3 linked regions of the Homo sapiens genome follow. The protein of the gene in region 3 interacts with the protein of the main gene of each other region in a pairwise test. Each region holds a gene or a part of one and is shown on either strand. Other genes may lie near its edges.

What was found. The genes of interacting proteins can lie anywhere in the genome.
Region 1: the proteins of ALAS1 (region 3) and USP20 interact in binary tests that used the Homo sapiens proteins (3 or more experiments, as listed by UniProt).
Region 2: the proteins of ALAS1 (region 3) and TTC23 interact in binary tests that used the Homo sapiens proteins (3 or more experiments, as listed by UniProt).

What each region holds. Positions count from the first base shown.
Region 1 is NC_000009.12:129,859,370-129,866,838, forward strand, and holds part of USP20 (ubiquitin carboxyl-terminal hydrolase 20), read left to right. Parts: intron 1-1,567; coding exon 1,568-1,664; intron 1,665-2,173; coding exon 2,174-2,243; intron 2,244-3,816; coding exon 3,817-3,930; intron 3,931-5,933; coding exon 5,934-6,012; intron 6,013-7,469.
Region 2 is NC_000015.10:99,218,201-99,225,669, forward strand, and holds part of TTC23 (tetratricopeptide repeat protein 23), read right to left. Parts: intron 7,347-7,469; exon of another isoform or gene 7,184-7,346; intron 3,665-7,183; coding exon 3,541-3,664; intron 849-3,540; coding exon 698-848; intron 514-697; coding exon 388-513; intron 1-387. UniProt on the Homo sapiens protein: Participates positively in the ciliary Hedgehog (Hh) signaling.
Region 3 is NC_000003.12:52,208,160-52,215,296, forward strand, and holds the end of ALAS1 (5-aminolevulinate synthase, non-specific, mitochondrial isoform 1 precursor), read left to right. Parts: coding exon 1-88; intron 89-3,123; coding exon 3,124-3,392; intron 3,393-4,098; coding exon 4,099-4,261; intron 4,262-5,849; coding exon of another isoform or gene 5,850-5,860; coding exon 5,861-6,021; 3' UTR 6,022-6,168; downstream 6,169-7,137.

The DNA of each region.
Region 1 (7,469 bases), on a different chromosome or scaffold from region 3:
TTCAACTGATTGTCCTGCCTCAACCTCCTGAGTAGCTGGGATTACAGGCGCCCACGACCATGCCTGGCTAATTTTCATATTTTTAGTAGAGTCAGGGTTTTGCCATGTTGACTAGGCTGGTCTTGAACTCCTGACCTCAAGTGATCCGCCTGCCTTGGCCTCCCAAAGTGCTGGGATTACAGGCAGGAGCCACCGCACCTGGCCTCTCCTTCTGTTTAGACAGTCACATGATAGGGCTCAATATTGCTCAAAATGCTTATTGAATGCATTTGTGAACTTGGTAGATATTTATGAATTTTTATAGAAAAGGCTATAAAACAGTATATGCAATATCTTGTTTTTGTTGTGCATGTGTATTAACAGTTAAAAGTCTGTATAATACAGGCTGGGCGCCATGGCTAATGCCTGTAATCCCAGCCCTTTGCTGGGCCAAGGCAGGAGGATCGCTTGAGCCCAGGAGTTTGAGACCAGCCTGGGCAACAGCGTGAGACCCTGTCTCTACAAAAAATAAAATTAGCTAGGCATGGTGGCGCATGCTTGTAATCCCAGCTACTTGGGAGGCTGAGGTGGGAGGATCACTTGAGCCCGGGAGTTCAAGGTTGCAGTGAGCTATAGTTGTGCTACTGCACTCCAGCCTGGGCGACGAGCAAGACTCTATCTCTTAAAAAAAGTCCACATAGCCCAGGCGCGGTGGCTCATTCCTGTAATCCCAGCACTTTGGGAGGCCGAGGCGGGCAGATCACGAGGTCAGGAGATCGAGACCATCCTGGCTAACACGGTGAAACCCCGTCTCTACTAAAAATACAAAAAATTAGTCAGGCATAGTAGCGGGCACCTGTAGTCCCAGCTAGTCAGGAGGCTGAGGCAGGAGAATGGCATGAACCTGGGAGGCGGAGCTTGCAGTGAGCCAAGATTGCACCATTGCACTCCAGCCTGGGCAACAGAGCGAGACTCTGTCTCAAAAAGAAAAAAAAAAACGTCTACATAAGATACATACAGACTATTAACAGCAGTTCTCTCAGGAAAATGGGGTTGCATGTTTATGTTTCTATTTTTCTCCAAATTTATTATAAATAAAATATTTTTTTTATTGCCAATAAAAAAATGCAAGTCAACATCTGGACACAGTGGCTCATGTTATCCTAACACTTTGGGAGGATCACTGGAGCCCAGTAGTTTGAGACCAGCCTGGGCAATATAAAAAGGTTAGCTGGGTGCTGTGCATGCACCTGTAGTCTCAGCTACTGAGAAGGGCGAGGTGGGAGGATCCCTTGAGCCCAGAAGTTGGAGTCAGCAGTGAGCTCTGATTGTGCCACTGCACTCCAGCCTGGGTGACAAAGCAAGACCCTGTCTCTAAAAAAACACAGACACACACAAATCAAGGAGTTCCCAGGGCAAGGCCACCAATCCTATCTCTTTTCACAGTACCTTCTGCTCAGCTGGACTGGCTCAGCCCAGTAGGGCCTTCCGGGCAGTAGGGCTGGACTTCCAGCCCTTGGGAGACACCTGGGCCTCTGACCCCAGCCCCTCTGTTCACTGTTTTCCTCACTTTGGGTCTTTAACACAGGACTCCCCGCCACCCTCCCACCCTCTGAAAGCTGTTCCTATTGCTGTGGCTGATGAAGGAGAGTCTGAGTCAGAGGACGATGACCTGAAACCTCGAGGTAATGGCCCCCACAGCAGGGGAAGCTGATGGGCTGGGCTGGGGGCCCTCATCTGGAGGCTGGAAACCGCCAGAGTCTTGGTCTCTATTTGCACCTGCTATATGGGCAAGGAAGGATGGGGTGACGGATAAGCTGTTTAGCATGGTGGCTTCACCCCAGAAGTTGGCTGGCCTAGCTAAGGTTCTGGAGAGCTGGCTATCTTGTCCCCTCTCCCAGCTGGGTGACCCTGGGCAGGCCGACCCCTCTGCTGTATGGTCTGGACAGTGGGCCTGGCTGGGCGGAGGGGCAAAGGAGTTCATCTGTTTAAAACACTCAGGTAACCGCAGCTGTTGTGAGCAGGAACCACGTTAGTTTACTGGGAAGATTCCTGGGGTGGAACGCTTCCACCATGTCCTCTTCTTGGGTCTTGGGCAGTTGAGAGCCACACCTTTGTGCCAAATGTGACTTGCAAGGTTTCCTCGGTGGGGCAGGGTGCTCACCTGCTCCTCCCCGTTGTGTTTATTTCCCAGGCCTCACGGGCATGAAGAACCTCGGGAACTCCTGCTACATGAACGCTGCCCTGCAGGCCCTGTCCAATTGGTAGGTCGACACTTTGTCCGAGGGCCGAGAGCTGTCCCTGGCAAAGCCCCGGAAACAGCAGCAGTAGCAGCCCCCAGCCGGTTGCCCACAAACACATGTATAGGATGCACAGCAAAATGCCTGAAAGCATGTATACCCTTTGACCCAGCAATCCTCCCAGTCAGAATGTATCCTGAGGAGATAACCGGAGATGCTGGGGAAGTTGTACGTGCAAGGAGGCTCAGTGCTCTGTTGTTTACTGGAAATGATTTAAAGGCCCATCTGCAAGAGAGTATAAATTCTCATAGCCCTTGCAGCAAGTGCAGGAAAAATGGCACAAGACAACATGCATTGAAACAAGAAGGGGTTCAGAATCTGGTGAGTGGGGGAAAAAGGAGGTTATAAAGCATTGCATGGTACAATCCCGTTTTATGGGAGAAATGCGATTTTCCATTAAGGATAAGGCTGTGAGCTCCATGAGGCCAAGGATGTCTCCTGTGTCTGACGTGCTTCTCCTACCCAGTGGAGGTTAGAGATGCAGTATATGTATGCGGGAAGCAGAGAGGGAATGGGTACAAATGCGTAGAAAAGTCTGGAAGGCTATGTCCCAAAATGTTCCTAGTAACTATCCTCAGGTGGCAGGATGCAGGTCAATTATTGTTAATAATTGACCACACCCAGGCTGGGCGCAGTAGCCCACGCCTGTAATCCCAGCACTTTGGTAGGCCGAGGCAGATGGATCACCAGGTCAGGAGATAGAGACCATTCTGGCTAACATGGTGAAACCCTGTCTCTACTAAAAATACAAAAAACTAGCTGGACGTGGTGGCACGCACCTGTAGTCCCAGCTACTGGGGAGGCTGAGGCAGGAGAATCGCTTGAACCCGGGAGGCGGAGGTTGCAGTGAGCTGAGATCATGCCATTGCATTCCAGCCTGGGTGACAGAGCGAGACTCCGTCTCAAAAAAAAAAAGAAAAATTGACCGCACCCAATCCGTTTTAACTTTAATAACCTCTTTAAAGGCCCTGTCTTGGCTGGGCACCGTGGCTTACGCCTGTAATCCCAGCACTTTGGGAGGTCAAGGCAAGTGGATCGCCTGAGGTCAGGAGTTCAAGACCAGCCTGGCCAACTAGTAGAGCCTGTCTCTACTAAAAATACAAAAAAATTAGCCAGGCATTGTGGCATGTGCCTGTAATCCCAGCTACTCGGGAGGCTAAGGCAGGAGAAGCACTTGAACCCGGGAGGCAGAGGTTGCAATGAACCAAGATTGCACCACTGGACTCCAGCCTGGGCAACAGAGGGAGACTCTGTTTCAAAATAATAATAATAATAATAAAAAAATAAGGTAAGATAGATAAGATGAGATAAAATAAAAATGCCCTGTCTCTGGGAGTTAGGGCTTCGCAGATGAATTTTGGAGGATACAATTTTCTCATAACTGGTAGGAGCCTTCTAGTCACCTTCAGGAGTTTCTGGGTCCAGGGCCACTGTGCTCCCTGTGCGAGCACTCAGGGCTCCCCGCTATGCAGCCCTTTCTAAACTGCCGCATGCCTCATTTGCTCTCCTGACCTGGCTCTCTCTCCCCTGCACCCAGCCCGCCGCTGACTCAGTTCTTCTTGGAGTGTGGCGGCCTGGTGCGCACAGATAAGAAGCCAGCCCTGTGCAAGAGCTACCAGAAGCTGGTCTCTGAGGTCTGGCATAAGAAACGGTGAGCAGCTGCATCCCTAGCCTTGGGCGGTGTGTGGGGACTGGGGTTTCCTGTCAGCACCCATGATTGAGTACTTCCTGTGGATTCAGCCCCCAGCGAGGACTTGCCTCACTTTGTCCCGGGTAATGCTTGCAGCAAGCCTGCGGGGTGGAAATTGCATCCAGTCCTGTTTTACAAATAGGGAAACTGAGGTGCAGAGCACTTTAAGTATCTTGCTCAAGGTCATAGAACCTGCAAAAAGTGAGCTAGAATTTGACCTACTGTTGACCCTACCGAGCAGCCACTGGTAGATGTCTTTGCCAAGAGACATGGTGACCCGGCCTCAGCCAGGACTGTGTGTGTAGAAGGAGGTGTGGGGCAGGGGAGCACAGACTGGATGGAGCTTCTGGCACAGTATGAAATTAATTTAAAGATCAGAGTCTGTGATTAGATCTGTTTCTCCAGGAAAAGTCAAAGTTGGGAATAATTTTAAATGAGCACATAGAAATATGTATTATGTGTAGAAGCGGATGAAAAACCAGCGTAGGGCCAGGCGCAGTGGCTCACGCCTGTAATCCCTGCACTTTGAGAGGCTGAGGCAGGTGGATCACGAGGTCAAGAGATCGAGACCGTTCTGGCCAACATGGTGAAACCCCGTGTCTAATAAAAATACAAAAATTAGCTGGGTGTGGTGGCGTGTGCCTGTAGTCCCAGCTACTCGGGAGGCTGAGGCAGGAGAATCACTTGAACCTGGGAGGCGGAGGTGGCAGTGAGCCGAGATCGCACCACTGCACTCCAGCCTGTTGACAAAGCGAGACTCTGTCTCAAAAAAAAAAAAACAAAAACAAAACAAACCAGCATGGGAGAAATATGTATTAAATGTAGAAGCAGATTAAAAACCAGCGTGGGGCCAGATGCAGTCACTGACACCTGTAAATCCAGCACTTTGGGAGGCCGAGGCAGGAGAATCATTTGAGCCTAGGAGTTTGAGACCGGCCTGGACAACACAGCAAGACCCCGCCTCTACAAAAACTACAAAATTAGCTGAGTGTGGTGTGAGCACTTGTGGTCCCAGCTACTCAGGAGGCTGAGGTGGGAGGATCGCTTGAGTCCAGGAAGTTGAGGCAGGCTGCAGTGAGCTTGATCATGCCATTGCACTTCAGCCTGGGCGACAGAGTGAGACCCTGTCTCAAAAAAAAAAAAAAAAAAAAAAAAGTCTGTGTGCAGTGGCTCACTCCTGTAATCCCAGTACTTTGGGAGGCCGAGGCGGGTGGATCGCAAGGTCAGGAGTTCGAGACCAGCCTGGCCAATGTGGTGAAACCCCGTCTCTACTAAAAATACAAAAATTAGCTGGGCATGGTGGCGCGCACCTGTATTCCCAGCACTTTGGGAGGCTGAGACAGGAGAATCACTTGAACTCGGGAGGCGGAGGTTGCAGCAAGCCAAGATCATGCCACTGCACTCTAGCCTGGGAAACAGAGCAAGACTCTGTCCCAAAAAAAAAAAAAAAAAAACCCAGCATGGTACAATATAATTCCGCTTGTGTAAGAAGCCAAGTTTAAATGTGTATCTGTATGTATTTTTGTATATGCATCTGTAGTTTCACAGAACCAGAAATCTAATGGTAAGTATCTGGTGCCATTGGTGGTGGTGTTTTTCTCTTGTACTTTTCTGAAATTTTAGATTTGTCAATAATGAACATGTCTTACTTTTGAAATGAGAAAACCACAGTAAGTGTTTCAGAATGAAAACAAATCATGTTTAGGCGAGTTTGTTGTGCACCAGAAGGAAATGATGCTATTTTATTTGAGCTCTTTGCTTAATTGAGGCAGCTATGACTTGACATTTTCTTCTTGTCTGTAGAGATGTGTGAGCCTCTTGGGGCTCCTGGCTGAGTAGGCCCCTCCCCAAATGTCAGGAAACGCCACACTCTGATCCAGCCTGACGGGCTGGCTGCCTGCTTCTCTCGGGAATGAGCAGCTCAAGGCAGGCTACCTGGACTAATGGGTTTGGGCTTCCTACAGGCCAAGCTACGTGGTCCCCACCAGTCTGTCTCATGGGATCAAGTTGGTCAACCCAATGTTCCGAGGCTATGCCCAGCAGGTAAGCCATCTGAGCTGCCCAGGGGACACCCAAGGCCATGACCCACCAGGCCTGACTTTGACGCCAAAACCAGAGTGGAAAATCGCAATGGCAGCTGAGCACTGGTTGGCAGGTCTCACGGACCAGGCTCTCACTCCTAAGCCCTTCACACGTGTGAGGACAGTGGAGCCTCCCAGCAACCTGCTGACATTTAACCCCACTTCACAGATGGACAGACTGAGGTTCAGGGGCCGAGCCACTTGCACAGGCCACACAGCTAGTAAATGGTGGAGGGGAATTCTTTTTTTTGTGGGGGAGGGTGGGTACAGGGTCTCACTCTGTCACCCAGGCTGGAGTGCAGTGGTGCAGTCATGGCTTACTGCACCCTCGACCTCCCGGGCTCAAGCAGTCGTCCCACCTCAGGCTCCGAAAGTGCTGTGATTATAGGCATGAGCCACTGCACCCGGCGGAGGGGAGATTTGAACCCAGGCAACCTTGCTGCAGGGCCTCCGCGTTGCACCCAAAATGACACAGGGTTTCATTTCCCCAAACCACAGGCAAAATTTCACTTTTATTAAAGTAAAAAGTTTGATTAAAAATTTTTTTTAAATCTAGAGAACCCTTTTGAAACCAATCACATTTTTCTATTTTATAAAATAATGAGACCAAGACAGAGTGCAGCCACGCGTACACCTCAGCCCCGGGCTGATGGCTCCTGCCCTCCAGCCTCCTGCCCCAGATGGCCCACAGCCTGGGCTTTCATGCCAGGCCTGCAGGCAGAGCTGGACCTGGCTGGGTCACCTCTTGTGCTGCCTGAAATGAGCACCATGGACGGAGTGGCAGTCATGTGGGGACAACTTCCGCCCTCTACCCCCTGCCTGCTGTCCCGTCCCAGGATGAAGTCTGCTGGGCCTTTGGCTCCTGCTTGAGAAGCTCAGCACTGCCTGGACACCTCTCTTTTTGGGGAGTGATAACATGCACAATGACTAAAATTCACTGAGCACCATTTAAGTGGTCACAACTTAGTCCTCATAGAAGTCTCACAAAGTGGGCACTGTTGTCACCCACACGTTACAGGTAAAGAGCTGAGGCTCAGAGAGGTTCTACCCCTCACCCAGGTCACACAGCACATCCTGGCAGAGATGGCATTCAGGCCTACCTGAGCCCATCCCTCAGCACAGCACCACCCTGACTGTGTGCAAGGCGCCCTGCCGGCTTTCAGCTCTGGGTCAGGATGCCGTTACGGAGGGCCATGCGCTGCGGCAGGACTCCATCTGGGCTCCGGCAGAAGCATCCCTTTCTGTGGTTTTAGGATATCGTGTGGGGACACTTCTGAGGCTGAACTGTAGACGCAGCTGCGGGCGCCTCTTAAGGGCCAAAAGACTCTTTTGTGCTTCTGCATGGATTGAGATTTTGGCAAGGAACACATAGTACTTTTGTTGAAAGGAAGAACCAGAAAGAGAAGTAGATGGCAGATT
Region 2 (7,469 bases), on a different chromosome or scaffold from region 3:
ATCTTTCTCCTTTGAGGCTTTCATCATAAACTCAACCTGTTGAAGCATTTTAGACTGGAGCAGGGCAGGGAAAAAAGGAAGGGAGGGAGGAAGAGAAGGGTGTAGGGGCTGGGGGTGAGGAGGGAGAGCAGGTAAAACGAAAGTCAAGAGAATAATGATCAGAACTCTGGGACCCAGGGCACTCCACAGAGAGTGAAAAGTGTCACTGATGGATGCCCTGGTTGGGGCTGCTCTGACATGACTGTGTTCCTCTTTTACTTTTACACAGTGACCTCCAGAGAAGCCATGGCCGCAGCCTCATGGAGATGCTCCTCCTACCTGAGACAGATTCTACAGGCAAAGAGCCTCCCGCCATCATGTATGCAAAATCCTAAACTTGAAACTTACTGTGCAAATGATAATCTGATCCGTGCTTCAATTTCTATCCATTCTTCCTTTATAATTCTTCCACATTGTAGCAGCTCCTTTGAAAGTCTCTCTGCTTTTGTCAAATTCTCTGCAGCTTCCTTAAATCTGAATTGTGTTCAGGAAATTTTCCACTTGGTTCTAGATTCTACACCCCATGTCCTGAACTTCCTTGGCTCCCATACTTCCAATCACACTTCCTAAGTCATCCATCAGCATCAGCTTTTTACTTGGCGTGTAAGTGTTACGTGAATAGTATTTCTATTTGTAAAAGTTAGAGGCAAAAGGATACTTTTGAAGGGAGAGTAAAGCTCTGCCCATGGTATGGAAAAGCTCAATGGAAAACTTGAAAACATCTGTATTCTCACTATAGGGAGGCACAATGGAGTTGGCGAGGATTTGTCTGGCTTTTTCTGCATGTTGTTTTGCTTGCAGTGACAGTCCTGTGGACAAAGAAAAAGAGGTCTCAGTTTCTCTATCATCTCAACTGGACAGGAATACAGTTCCTTATGGTCTGGGAATCTAACAAGGTCTCCTTCACATATTGTCAAATGACACATGGAGACGTATCTGGGCAGCATGAAACACTGCCATGACTGTAACAACCAAAGAAGTGTTTTATACCAAGTACCCAAGATAAATTTTCCCCCAAATGGCCTTTTTAGAAATAAACAAAATGAGCTGGAATTGAACAGCTTTGAAACCTCACCAATAGCAGAAGCAAAATATGTTACATATAATTATAAGAAACAAACTGAATACAAGAACTATAGCATTCTGAGCAGGAAATAAAATATTCATGAATTTTAATCCTGGCTGTGTAACTGCAATCTTAATGAAATACTAAAAATTCTGAATCTTCAGCTCACCCACCTATAATCATAATGTCAGAGAGTTATTTTTTTAACATAATACATATCTGATATCTACAAAAACTTACAAACACAATTCCAGTGAGGTAACAGATTAATGTGTGACAATTTCATCTTCCTATGTGGTAAGAGACTAATATGAAACAAAGTGGAGCAAAAAAAAATCACTACTAAGAAAGAATTCCCCAGTGTGTTCCAGTGTTCCTCCACGGGCTTGTTAATCTGTGGGAAGGGAGGACTGAGATCGCTAGCACGGCTTCAGGGCTTTGCACGTCCCTGTATTCCCATCCTCCTCCCCTACACCGACAACCACTTCCACTCACATACACACAGCCCCCATCTTATGTTCTTAGTTACACAAAATTGTATCTTAGATCTCTAAAAAAATCTGTCAAAATATGAAGTTAATTCTGTTCCTATGTCTATAAAACAGGAAGAATATATTTTCTAATGGAGAAAATCAAGGGTATGTGTTTCATGTGGGAATTCTTACACAAGATTGTCTTATTACATATTTTTAAAAAGCACAGACATGTATTAGTGCCACCTGTGCTTGTGATGTTACACAAAGCATGTTGGACTGTATTTTCAACTGTGTCGAGTCCCTGAAGGAACCTGAACTCAATTTACTGGAGGCAGCATAGGGTGAAGTTCAAGAACATTGGCTCTGAAGTCAGACTGCCCAGGATGGATCCCCTGCTCCACCACTTATTATAAAACGTTGGCCTCAGCTTTCTCAGCTGTAAACAGGGATATTAAAAATACCCACCTTTGAGGACTGTGGTGAGGACTGAATAAGGTTATGCATGGAAAACAACATGCCTGGCACCAAATGAGACTTTAATAAATGGTAGATACTACTTTTACTTTAAATTGAGAAAGAAGGACTGTCACGCAGAGAGGCAGCAGGCTGTATAAGAAAAGCATCGTCTGAAACCCCAGATGGCAGGACAAACTGGCATTGAAAACCTAGGTCTGAGTCTCAGATCAGCTACTTATTAACAGTGTGGTATGGGGAAAGCTGTTCTAACTCAGACTCATTGTTTTCCCTGAATCTACAAAATGGGGTGGGAGGGCAGAGTTTAAATTAGATAATCTCCAAGGTCCCTAAGAGCCTTTGATCTAATAGGTAGGACCAGTCTATAATCAGATTTGGCCAAATTTATTGGGTGGCAATAATGAATACGCTTGGTATAGAATATGCTTGGCATTTGGTGTTTTCCACTTCTATTATTTTCTTTATTCACTGGGCCAACCCTGGAAAGTTAGCATCACCATTACCATCATCATCACTTTTCAGCTGAAGAAGCTGAGCACAGAGATGCTCTTGTCCATCTTGTCTTAGGCTGCACAGTCAGTAAGTAGAAGCCATCATCATATCCTGGGTGTCTATTGTTTTTGCCTCCCCTGCACGCATTCTCCCCTCTGTTTCCCTTTTGGGATGCCTGGCTCCTGCACATCCAATCCATGAGATGTGGCGAAGGCCTGCTTCTCCTTCAGGATCCAATGAAGCCAAAAGAAAGGTTTAGCCAATCAGACTATTCCTTGCCTTTGGTATACAACCCAAGTTGTTCCAATTAGAACCCTTCCCAAATCCCGGGATTTTGGTGGAGGGACATTCTTTTCCTCCTGGGAATGCTTATAAGGGAAGTCTAAAGTTGCAGGCAGTCTTGTTGCCACCATGTGGGCAAAACCTGGCAAAGAATGGAGCAAATACCAAGAAAAACAGAGCCAAGCAGTGGGAGAGAGAAAAATTGAATCCTGGTCACATTGTTTGAACACTGGATATGGCTAAGTCTAAAAATTTTTTCCCTTGAATTTTTAAGTTGTATGAGCCAAAAACTTTTGTTTATGCCAATTTGGGTTAGTCTTTTTAAATTTTTTGGTTATTTACAGTCAAGAGATTCTCCAATAAAAGTGTGAATGGATCCCATTCTGGGCCCCTATTCCATACCTTGGGTTTTTTCCTACAAAGTCTTCTGGCCCAACAGATTAATTTTCTCCTAAGAACCTTACTTTTGAAATCATAAAAACAAAAACAAAAACAAAAAAACCAGAAAAGTTAAAATATTTTTTCCATTTTTCCCCTTTGAATGTTTACAGGTTATATACCTTATCAACTCTTTCTAAAAAGAAATGGCTTCTTGGTATTTAGAAAGGAGAATATTAAAAAACCTGATCCTTCTAATTAAGTGTGAATCAAATTTTGGGGAGAACAGCAGAAATCGACCAACTGATCCCCCTCAGTCTAAGGCGAGCTTACCTTTCAGCTGGAGGTAGCCTTGAGCCAGATTAACATGTGCCTCTGCTAGTTTCCAATGTGAGTCTCCATAGCAAATTCTTGTCAGTGCTACGCAACGCACAAGCTCATGGACGGCCTGTTTGTACTGTTAGGAAGAGAAAACAGGCTTACCAGTTATACAACTTAAGAGTCACAAAACACAAAATCAATGCGCTTTTATATCCCTTTGATAAATACTGAGTGACTACTATGTGCAAAACATTGTTCTAAGCACTTGAGATGTATCAGAGAACAAAACAGACAAAGATCTATTTGGGGTGGTAGCATGTACATCTGGTAAGATGAAACAGACAATAAACATAAGAAGTACAATTTATAGTACATTTAAGGGTGAAAAAAAGAAATAGAATTTAAAAAATAGAAAAAGTAGAGCAGACATCTAGTCATTCTCTAGGTTTCCCAGCTGCCCACCAATGAACAGCTACTACATATGCAGGCACAACAGGGGCAAATGGTAGTGTTTTCAAATAGTACACTTTGTGTGTGTGTGTATGTGTGTGTGTGTATGAGACAGGGTCTCACTCACCTGGAGTCACCCAGGCTGGAGTACAATGGCACGATATCAGCTCACTGTAGCCTCGACCTCCAGGGGGCTCGAGCAATCCTCCCACCTCAGCCTCCTGAGCAGCTGGGACCACAGGTGTGCACCACCACACCTGGCTAGTTTTTTGTATTTTTGGTAGAGATGGGATTTTGCCATGTTGCCCAGGCTGTCAAATACTATAGTTTAGCTCTCAATTCAAAACTTTCCTTAGCCATCTGCACTAGCATAGCAAATGAGATCAGCAGGACTTACAGACTTGATTAAAGCAGCAAGAAGCACAGTTTCATTCAGGGATAGGACAAAAAGAACAGAAAACTGGATTCCCAGCTCCAGGTGATCTCAGAGCAGCCATATCCTCAAAGCAGAGCTGGCAGTTTTAAAACACGGTTCCAGGCTGGGCGTGGTGGCTCAAACCTGTAATCCCAGCACTTTGGGAGGCGGAGATGGGTGAATCACAAGGTCAAGAGATCGAGACCATCCTGGCTAACATGGTGAAACCCCATCTCTACTAAAAATACAAAAAATTAGCCAGGCATGGTGGCGGCCGCCCGTAGTCCCAGCTACTCGGGAGGCTGGGGCAGGAGAATGGTGTGAACCCGGGAGGCGGAGCTTGCAGTGAGCCGATATCGTGCCACTGCATTCCAGCCTGGGCGACACAGCGAGACTCCGTCTCAAAACAAACAAACAAACAAAACCTCAGCTCCAAAATTATTTGATACTCCTTCCATTCAGAGATGGGGGTCTATGTCCCATTCCCTTTGAATCTGGGCTTTATGACTGTTTGGCCAATAGAACGTGGAGGAAATGATACAGTGCCAGTTTTCAGGCCACAGTCTAAAGGAACTGGTGGCTTTGCTTTCTGTCTCTTCTTGGGTACTCACTCTTGAAACCTGTTATGGGCTGAACTGTGTCTCCTCCCCAACCTCCCTGAATTCATATATTTAAGTCCCAATCCCCAGCACCTTATAATGTAACTGTTTTTGAAGATGAGGTCTTTAAAGAGGTGATTTAAGTTCGAAGGAGGTGTTAGGGTGGACCCTAGTCCAATACAGCTGGTATCCTTATATATGAAGAGGAAAAGACACCAGGGATGGGCATGCATATGGAGAAATGACCATGTGAGAACACAGCAAGAGGGCAGTCATCTACAAACTAAGGAGAGAGGGCTTTAGAATGAAATCAAGCCCTGCTCACACCTTGGTCTTGGACTTCCAGCCTCCAGAACTGTGAGGAAATAAACTCTGTTCTTTAAGCCACAGCATCTGTGGAATTTTGTTAGGACAGCACCACAGACTAATACAGAATCCAACCACAGTGCTGTGAGGAAGCCAACATGGCCCCATGGAGAGAAGACCCACATAGAAAGGCCTGATAGTTTGAGTGAACCATTTTGGCAGCAGATTCTCCAGACCCTTCAAGACCAGCTGATGCTGTGCGGAGCAAAGCTGAGCAAACCCCACTGAGCTCTGCAAAAACCGCAGGCTCATGAGAAAAATGAATGGCTGTTTTGGTTTTAAGCCACTAAGTTATTGGGGTGTCATGCAGCAACAGATAGTCAGAACAGCAAGAGAGATGGCTGAAGAAAGAAAGCTGAAGGGGTCAAAGCAGAGGAAGAAAGGTAAGAACAAGGACAGAGTTGTGAAGAAGATCCAGGATACACCTAGGATGCACGCCCATCAATGTCAAAGCTCAAAGGGCTTGCATTTCCACACAATTCCTACATGCATTGGAAATACCTTCACCCTAAAACAACATTTTTCTTGACAAAAATACACAGCCAGACAGTTGGCCAAAGGAGAGTCACTTTTGTGACCTAGCAGGAGGAAGCTAAGGAATACATGCTCACCATAAAGTGCTGAAAGAAGGTGGACTGTCATATTCTTTTCTACAGTAACGTTTCTTACTACAAAAATAATGTATGCTCATTGTCAAAATACAGATAAGCAAAAAGATAAAAACTAAAAATCACCTGTAAGTTTACCGCCTAGAGATATCTAGGTAGATAAATATCCCTTTATTCTTTATTTTTGTGAATCTATCTTTATATATTTTTTCTTTTTCAAAAATAGGTTCATAAACTACATGCAGGTTTACAGCTGCTGTTTTAACAATTTACGAATAACTTCTCATGTCATCTTCTATGATATAAGTTTGAATGGCTGCACAGTATTTTATTATATGACTATATCATAACTGCATTACTCAATCCACTCTTTATTGGGCATTTAGCTGTTTGTAAATTTCTTACTCACTGAATATCCTGTATGGATAGCTTTGCACATACCCATAAACATTTCCACAAAACAAATTCCCACAAATGGGATTGCTGTATAAAGGATATGCAAAATTCTGAGGCTGTGAGTAGCTATTGAAGTGCCTCTCCCAGAGGTTGTACCAGTTCATACTTTCAGCGCAGCACATGTGAGCAGAAATGCCCCTTACGTTGAACTGAGTACAAATTGTGGAGTTTTTGTTTGGTTTTTAGTTTGTCAGTTTGTCAGTTAGCCCATTTCTCCTTGATTTAGTCCACATTTTTCTCCCAAATTGATGAGGCTGAGCATCTTCATGTGTTAACTGGCTGTTTGTACTTCTTTTGGGAATCACCTTTTTATTGCCTCTAGACACAGGAAGTTTAGGGAATGACTACTTTGGAGAGAGAGAAAGAGAACAACAACTACAGTGTATGAAAGACACGGAAATGATGACAACATCATGGAATCCAGACAGACAAAAAGAGAGGTAGATCTGTTTTGATAGTGAATCTGTCCCAACTACAGATTTCCAGCGAAGAGGACGGTGCAGGCTGAGTTGGGCTTCCCTGATAATAGCCTTGGTTCTCAGGACCTGAGTAGGGATAGAGGTATACAAGAAACAGCTTGTCCTTCCTTCACGTCCTTATTTGTTACAAGGCATGGTCCAAATATCCCTATTGGTTTTCCAACCTTTATTCTACCAGTTCCAGTGACTTTAGCAATAGGCATCAGTAAGGGGCAGACAGAAGACAAGCACGAAGTAGGAAGGCAATTTCAAAACTGGGAGGAACCTTGGAAATCATCTCACCTGGTCCCCTCAGTTTAAAGATGAAGGAGTCTAAGGCTGGAAAGTCGAGATGATTTACCAGCAAGTGGTAGCGCCAGGAAGTGGTTAAACCGTAAGGGGATGCATTGAGGACTCAGGAGCCAGCTGGAAGGGTCTCTCACTGGCAGATACGGAACAATCCGAGCTTCCATGAAAATAACAGGTTGTAGTGTATTTGAAAAATACAATTTCCTGAACCCATACTGATAGGAATAAATGAATGATAAATAAGCTGTGAAGAAAGAAAAGCTCTTCCTTATAATAGAAT
Region 3 (7,137 bases):
GCAGTGGGGCTTTATGGGGCTCGAGGCGGAGGGATTGGGGATCGGGATGGAGTCATGCCAAAAATGGACATCATTTCTGGAACACTTGGTATGTATACATTGTATTACATACACTAAAATTCCATTATCCTAACAAGGCCAAGGACTAACTAGTCTAACTGGGATCAGGTGAGGAGACAGCCTGACAGCATATGAAGCCTGGGCCACTCTTTCTTTTGGCCCAGCTTAGTGGAATCCCTTGGGTCATGGAGGCATGGCTCTTAGAATCAAAGTAAATCCCACAGCCTAACACACTGATAGACCATTTATTGCTATCTGAGCTCATTTCAGACATAGTTGTGGGTCTAGCCCCATGCCATGGCAAGAGCCTGTACTCTCTGTGCCTCAGGCTGTTCTTAATTAAAAAGAAAAAGGAATTCTAGTACTTTTCTCCTGGAGCACTTGTTAGGTTCAGGTGTTGTGAAGTGCTGAACTCCGTGCCTGCCACGTGGGAACATTCTAATTCATCCTGGTTTTCCTCTGCTCTTCCTCATACAGAGGCTATGTCTCGTGGTAGATGGGAGCTAGACTTTGGAGCCCTGCCACCTCACTAGTTGTGTGACCTTGAGTTGGTAGTTAACCTTTCTATACCTCAGTTTCATCATCAATATAATGGAGAAAACAATAGGACCTAAATCAAAATATATGTGGAGAAGGTAAATAAGTTGTATGCAAACAGTTATTATAAACATTCCCTCTGAGAACCTATGAGAACCCTAAAGAGACGAAAATTACATAAATTTGAAGAATTTTTGTAATTTTGAAGAATTTTTTTAAGCCTTCAGAAGTGGGTAAGGCAGTTGGAAACCCATCTAGCAGTTAGCTAAAATGCCAGTTTATAGCCTATGCTTGGTAAAGGAAGGGCAGGCTTTTTAAAAAGCGTCCTTCAGCACTGTCAAGGGGTATGAGAACCTAGTGCAGACCCAGAAAGCCTGGGAGTTCTAAGGGTGGAACCACTACCAGGAGAAAAACACCTGATCATGTGTCTTAATTCAAGAAGCTCTTTTCTTTTTTTTCTTTTTTTTCCGAGATGGAGTGTCACTCTGTTGCCCAGGCTGGAGTGCAGTGGCGCGATCTCAGCTCACTGCAAGCTCCACCTCCCAGGTTCATGCCATTCTACTGCCTCAGCCTCCCAAGTAGCTGGGACTACAGGCACCCGCCACCATGCCTGGCTAATTTTTTGTATTTGTAGTAGAGACGGGGTTTCACCGTGTTAGCCAGAATGTTCTCAATCTCCTGACCACGTGATCTGCCCGCCTCAGCCTCCCAAAGTGCTGGGATTACAGGCGTGAGCCACCACACCCGGCCAGAAGCTCTTTTCTTTTAAGGATGTCTCCTGATGTGGGCTCTTTGAAGGTATGGTCATTGTGAGATGGAAAAGGCTGGAGAGAGAAACTTTATACCATAGGAGATTGAACCAACCCAGCTTTGCATGTGGTTTTAGCAAAAACATTAATTATAGAATGTTATGTTAAGATCTATGAAGACTCTTCTGGAGTTCTTTTTGTTTTTTGAGACAGGCTCTCACTCTGTGCCCAGGTGTGATCACAGCTCATCTGCAGCCTCCACCTCCTGGGCTCAAGTGATCCTCCCACCTCAACCTCCTGAATAACTGAGACTACAGGTGTGCGCTAGCATGCCTGGCTAATTTTTGTATTTTTAGTAGAAACGGGGTTTCACCATGTTGGCCAGGCTGGTCTCTAACTCCTGAGCTCAAGTGATTTGCCCCCCTCGGCCTCCCAAAGTTCTGGGACTATAGGTGTGAGCCACTGCACCTGGCCTCTTCTGGAGTTTTTAATCCTGAAACTTGAGATGTAGATCACACAAAAGGACTCAATGAGAATTGAAAACCAAGTCTGGCCCTAAATCAATCCTAATGCATTAATTGTCAAGAGTTTTGTTCTTAAGTAGGAAATAACACCAGTCATACCAAAACAGTTAATGCCTTAGCTGGGTAAAATTCCAGCCTCTGGGATAATGTTCCCTGTGGGAGGATGGTACAAGCACTGCAGAGCCAGTCTTGTTCCAAAGAGCACATGCAGTGCAGACATGGGGAGTGGAGCTGTGCTGGCTGTCAGAGCAGCAAGCCTGGGTGAGAAAGGGAAAGGAGAATAAGATGGTGGGAAGGGAGGCAGCAGCAGGGTATTTGGGCACACTGGGACCAGTCACTGAGGTGTCAGGTCTGATTGGAAGACCTGCATTTTGATCCTGGTTAGACACCAGCTTGGCCATATGACTTTGGGCAAGACCCTTTTGTAACTTTCCTTAGCTTTTTTACCCTTTTAAAAGTGAGTAGCCAGGCACGATAGCTCACACCTGAATCCCAGCACTTTGGGAGGCTGAGACAGGAGGATCACTTGAACCCAGGAGTTTGAGACCAGCCCTGGGCAACGAAGCATGGCCTCCTCTCTACACAAAATAAAAATTTAAAAAATCAGCCAGGCATGGTGGTGTACACCTGTCCTAGCTACTTGGGAGGCTGAGGCGGAAGGAATACTTGAGCCCAGGAGGTTGAGGCTGCAGAGAGCTATGATCATGCCACTGCACTCCAGCCTGGGTGACAGAGCAAGACCCTGTCTCTAAAAAAAAAAGGAAGATTAGATATCCTTTTATAGTCATGCATTGCTTAACGATGGGGGATGTGTTCTGAGAATTGCATCACTAGGCGATTTCATCATTGTGCAAACACCATAGAGTGTACTTACATAAACCTAGATTATATAGCCTACCGCACACCTAGGCTTTGTGGTATGGCGTGTTGCTCCTAGGCTGCAAACCTGTACAACATGTTACTGTATTGGATACTGTTGGCAACACCATGGTATTTGTGTATCTAAACATACCTAAACATAGAAAAGGTACAGTAAAAATACAGTATTATAATCTTATGGGACCACCATCATATATGTGGTCGTCATTGACTGAGACATCATTAATGTGGTGCATGACTACTCCAATCAGTCCAGGAACAAATTAAAAAGATAAGGAGAAAAGTCAGTGCTTTGAGGCTCCACAACACCTTGCTGTGTCCATTTAGAGCAATTTACAGCTGTTGCTGTAATTAATGAAGCTATCTCCTCCCAGGCAAAGCCTTTGGTTGTGTTGGAGGGTACATCGCCAGCACGAGTTCTCTGATTGACACCGTACGGTCCTATGCTGCTGGCTTCATCTTCACCACCTCTCTGCCACCCATGCTGCTGGCTGGAGCCCTGGAGTCTGTGCGGATCCTGAAGAGCGCTGAGGGACGGGTGCTTCGCCGCCAGCACCAGCGCAACGTCAAACTCATGAGACAGATGCTAATGGATGCCGGCCTCCCTGTTGTCCACTGCCCCAGCCACATCATCCCTGTGCGGGTAATGGCCTGTCTCTGATTGGACTTGCCGTGGGGTGTGCCTCTACACATGATGTACGGATGTTCTGCTTCATACCTTCCTGAAGTTGGGCTTGAGCGGGGTGACTGCCAGGGCAGGGGTTGTAGCCAGCCACCCTCTGTCATGTTTCCGCCATTGGCTGACTTCACCAAGAGAAGAAAGCCTTTGAACCCAGCAGGCTGGGGCAGAAGTTCCCTCTCCGGAGCACTGACCTTAACAGGGTAAACACAGAGCTTGTATCTAGAAAGCTCCAGAAGCCTGAGCTTGGCCAGCTTTGAAGTATGGCTTTCTACTTAGTAAATTTCAAAATAGGTTTTGCCCTTCCCACTACAAATGGTAGCACTGTTGATGTCACAGTTGAATTAGTGTAATGAATACAGCTAGTATAACTGAATCTAGATTATACATCGTGGGTATGAGAGTCTGCTGGTACGAACAGAACCAGTGTTTTCTGATTAAAAATGTATTTCTTTTTAATAAGGTTTTGGTTCCCTGGTGTTCACGAAACAACACTGGCTTCTTTTAAATGACAGGTGTTTGGGCAGCGCTTTCCCTCTGCCCCAAGCTTGCATGTGTTGCTACAGTCTGGTCTTGAGCCTGAGCGTTGTGGGGACTGCGTTCGTTAGGATCTCTGCTAAGAGGTAGTCCTTCCTGTTGTGACCTTACCTTCTGCTCTCATTGAACTTAGGTTGCAGATGCTGCTAAAAACACAGAAGTCTGTGATGAACTAATGAGCAGACATAACATCTACGTGCAAGCAATCAATTACCCTACGGTGCCCCGGGGAGAAGAGCTCCTACGGATTGCCCCCACCCCTCACCACACACCCCAGATGATGAACTACTTCCTTGGTGAGTACCTGGGGAGCTGCTGGTGCCTCACTGAGGAGTTGCATAAAGCTGTCTTTGCAGTGTTTATAATTGAAGCCCTTCAGAGGCATTCAGATTTGTTTCTTCTTCTTTTTTTAGTTTTTTTTTTGAGACAAGAGTTTCGCTCTTGTTGCCCAGGCTGGAGTACAATGGCACAATCTCGGCTCACCGCAACCCCTGCCTCCCAGGTTCAAGCGATTCTCCTGCCTCAGCTTCCTGAGTAGCTGGGATTACAGCCATGCGCCACCACGCCTGGCTGATTTTGTATTTTTAGTAGAGATGGGGTTTCTCCATGTTGGTCAGGCTGGTCTCGAACTCCCGACCTCAGGTGATCCACCCACCTCAGCCTTCCAAAGTGCTGGGATTACAGGTGTGAGCCCTGGTGCCCGGCCTGTTTCTTCTTTTTCCAAGTAACTAAGCATGCCCTCAAATGGTTCAAAACCCTAAAAGGTATTTATTGTCTGATTCACATCAAGAGGGTGGAGAGTCATTTTGGGAGCTCTGAGGGAGCCTGGGAATCCGCTCAGTGTTTCCAGTGCCCCCTTGTCTACGTGGCTGAAGGATGCACAGTAATGACTTGCAGGGAGAAGAGGCCTCTGAAGGCTTGAGTCCCCGCTGTCCCTCCGGAGTCCACCTCACATTTGTCTTCACCACTGCCCTCTACTCCATGATGTTGTATAATCCTTGAATAACCCCACACCTAATCGCCTCTGATAAGAGGAATTGCTCAATATTTTCAACTGCCCCGTGGTTCTATACTGCTCCACCCATGTCCAACCTAAAGGCAGAGATGGAAGGGGGCTATTAGCCACAGGTCACCTCTGCCTCGAAGGTACATTGCCTTCCCAAGCCCGCCCAGCGTGGCTCAGCTTCCTCACAGGCTCTCTGTTCTGTTGGAAATGCTGGGTTTAAACTGTCACGTGGCAGTGTTGGAGCAGCTTCTTCCCTACAGGCCTGTGAAATCAAGCCCAACTCTGGGTTTTATTTTTCTCTTTATTTATTTTTATAAAAGCCTTAAAATTTTTATAAAAGCCTTATCTCAGTAGAGATATAGCTCACTTACCATAAAATTCACCCTTTTAAAGTATCCAAGTCTATGATTTTTAAGTACACTCCCAGTGTTATGCAACCATCACTTCTATCTGATTCTAGAACATTTTCATCACCTCAGAAGCCCCTACCCATTAGGAGTCACTCCTCTTTTCCCCATCCCCAGCCCCTGTCAACCACGGCTCTTTCTGTCTCTATGGATTTGCCTTTTCTGGACCTTGTGTCTAAGTGGAATCATACCGCCTGTGCTCCTTTGTGTCTGCCTTCTTCCAGCATCATGTCTGCAAGGCTCATCCATGCTGTAGCATTCATCAGCACTTCATTTCTTTCTGTTACCAAATAACCTTCCATTGTACAGATTTACCACATTTTGTTTATCCGTCTATTGGTGGACATTTGGTTGTTTCTCTTGTTAACTATTATGAATAATGCTGCTATGAACATTTGTGTACAAGTTTTTGTGTGGACATATGTTTTCATTTCTCTTGTGTATATTACTCCCTTTAATATTTAAAAACTGTTTCTCCTCAGAGAATCTGCTAGTCACATGGAAGCAAGTGGGGCTGGAACTGAAGCCTCATTCCTCAGCTGAGTGCAACTTCTGCAGGAGGCCACTGCATTTTGAAGTGATGAGTGAAAGAGAGAAGTCCTATTTCTCAGGCTTGAGCAAGTTGGTATCTGCTCAGGCCTGAGCATGACCTCAATTATTTCACTTAACCCCAGGCCATTATCATATCCAGATGGTCTTCAGAGTTGTCTTTATATGTGAATTAAGTTATATTAAATTTTAATCTATAGTAAAAACATAGTCCTGGAAATAAATTCTTGCTTAAATGGTGGTTCTTTCTGCTATTGGCTACTGGATAACATTCTTCATTGGCTAGACACAGTGGCTAACACCTGTAATCACAACACTTGGGAGGCCAAAGCAAGAGGATCACTTTAGGCCAGGAGTTTGAAGCTGCAGTGAGCCATGATTGCTCCACTGCACTCCGGCCTGGGTGACAGAGCAAGACTGCCTCTGAAATAAAAAATAATAATTGTCATCATCCCTTTAAGTTCAGTCTGTATTCTAGGAATGAATAAACTGAATGAAGTACTGGAGCTCTGGTAATGGCTTCAGAGGAGGAGCAGCAGAACCTCCCACTGCTTGAGCCCTGCTACCTCCTTAATGCCTACTGTATCCAGTGGCTGACCCAGCCGCACCCGGCAACTGAACAGTTTTGAAAGAGTGACACCACCTTGGCGGCCGGTTTCACTTTAAACTTCTCACTTCACATCTTCAATGGACAGTCAGTGCTGCCCAGCAGTCCTGCTACAGCTGCCTCCCCCTGACTTTCCCTTTCAGCTACTGCCTTGACCCCATTCTTCCCTGTGAAAGTCTGGGCGTCAGAAGACTGGCTTGTCTGTCACCACCCTGTCCTCCAGCCTGTCAGCTTCCTGCACCTGTAGTTGTGTCCCATCCAGCAAAGGCAGAGGGGTTTGTGCTCCTCATCCTGCCTCTCTCCGTTTGTATTTCAGGTCCTGTTGTTTCTTGCATGGTCCTGCAGCCATCTCTTTGCTGCAGAATTTCTCCCCCTCTGCTGGTTCATTCTCCTTGGCCTGCAGAGGCTTTGTCCCCCTTCTGAAAAATAAGCTCTCTCTGTCCAGACCCCCTTCTTGCTGCCCCTGCCCCTCTGTGCTGCCCCTGTTCTAAGCAGTTGCCCTTTCATCCCTGTTCTCTAGGAAGGCTGCTCGTCTCTCACATCTGTCTCTATCTTGCCAAGTCCGGTGGCCAGTTCTGTCTTCCTTTGGTGGATCTCAGTGGT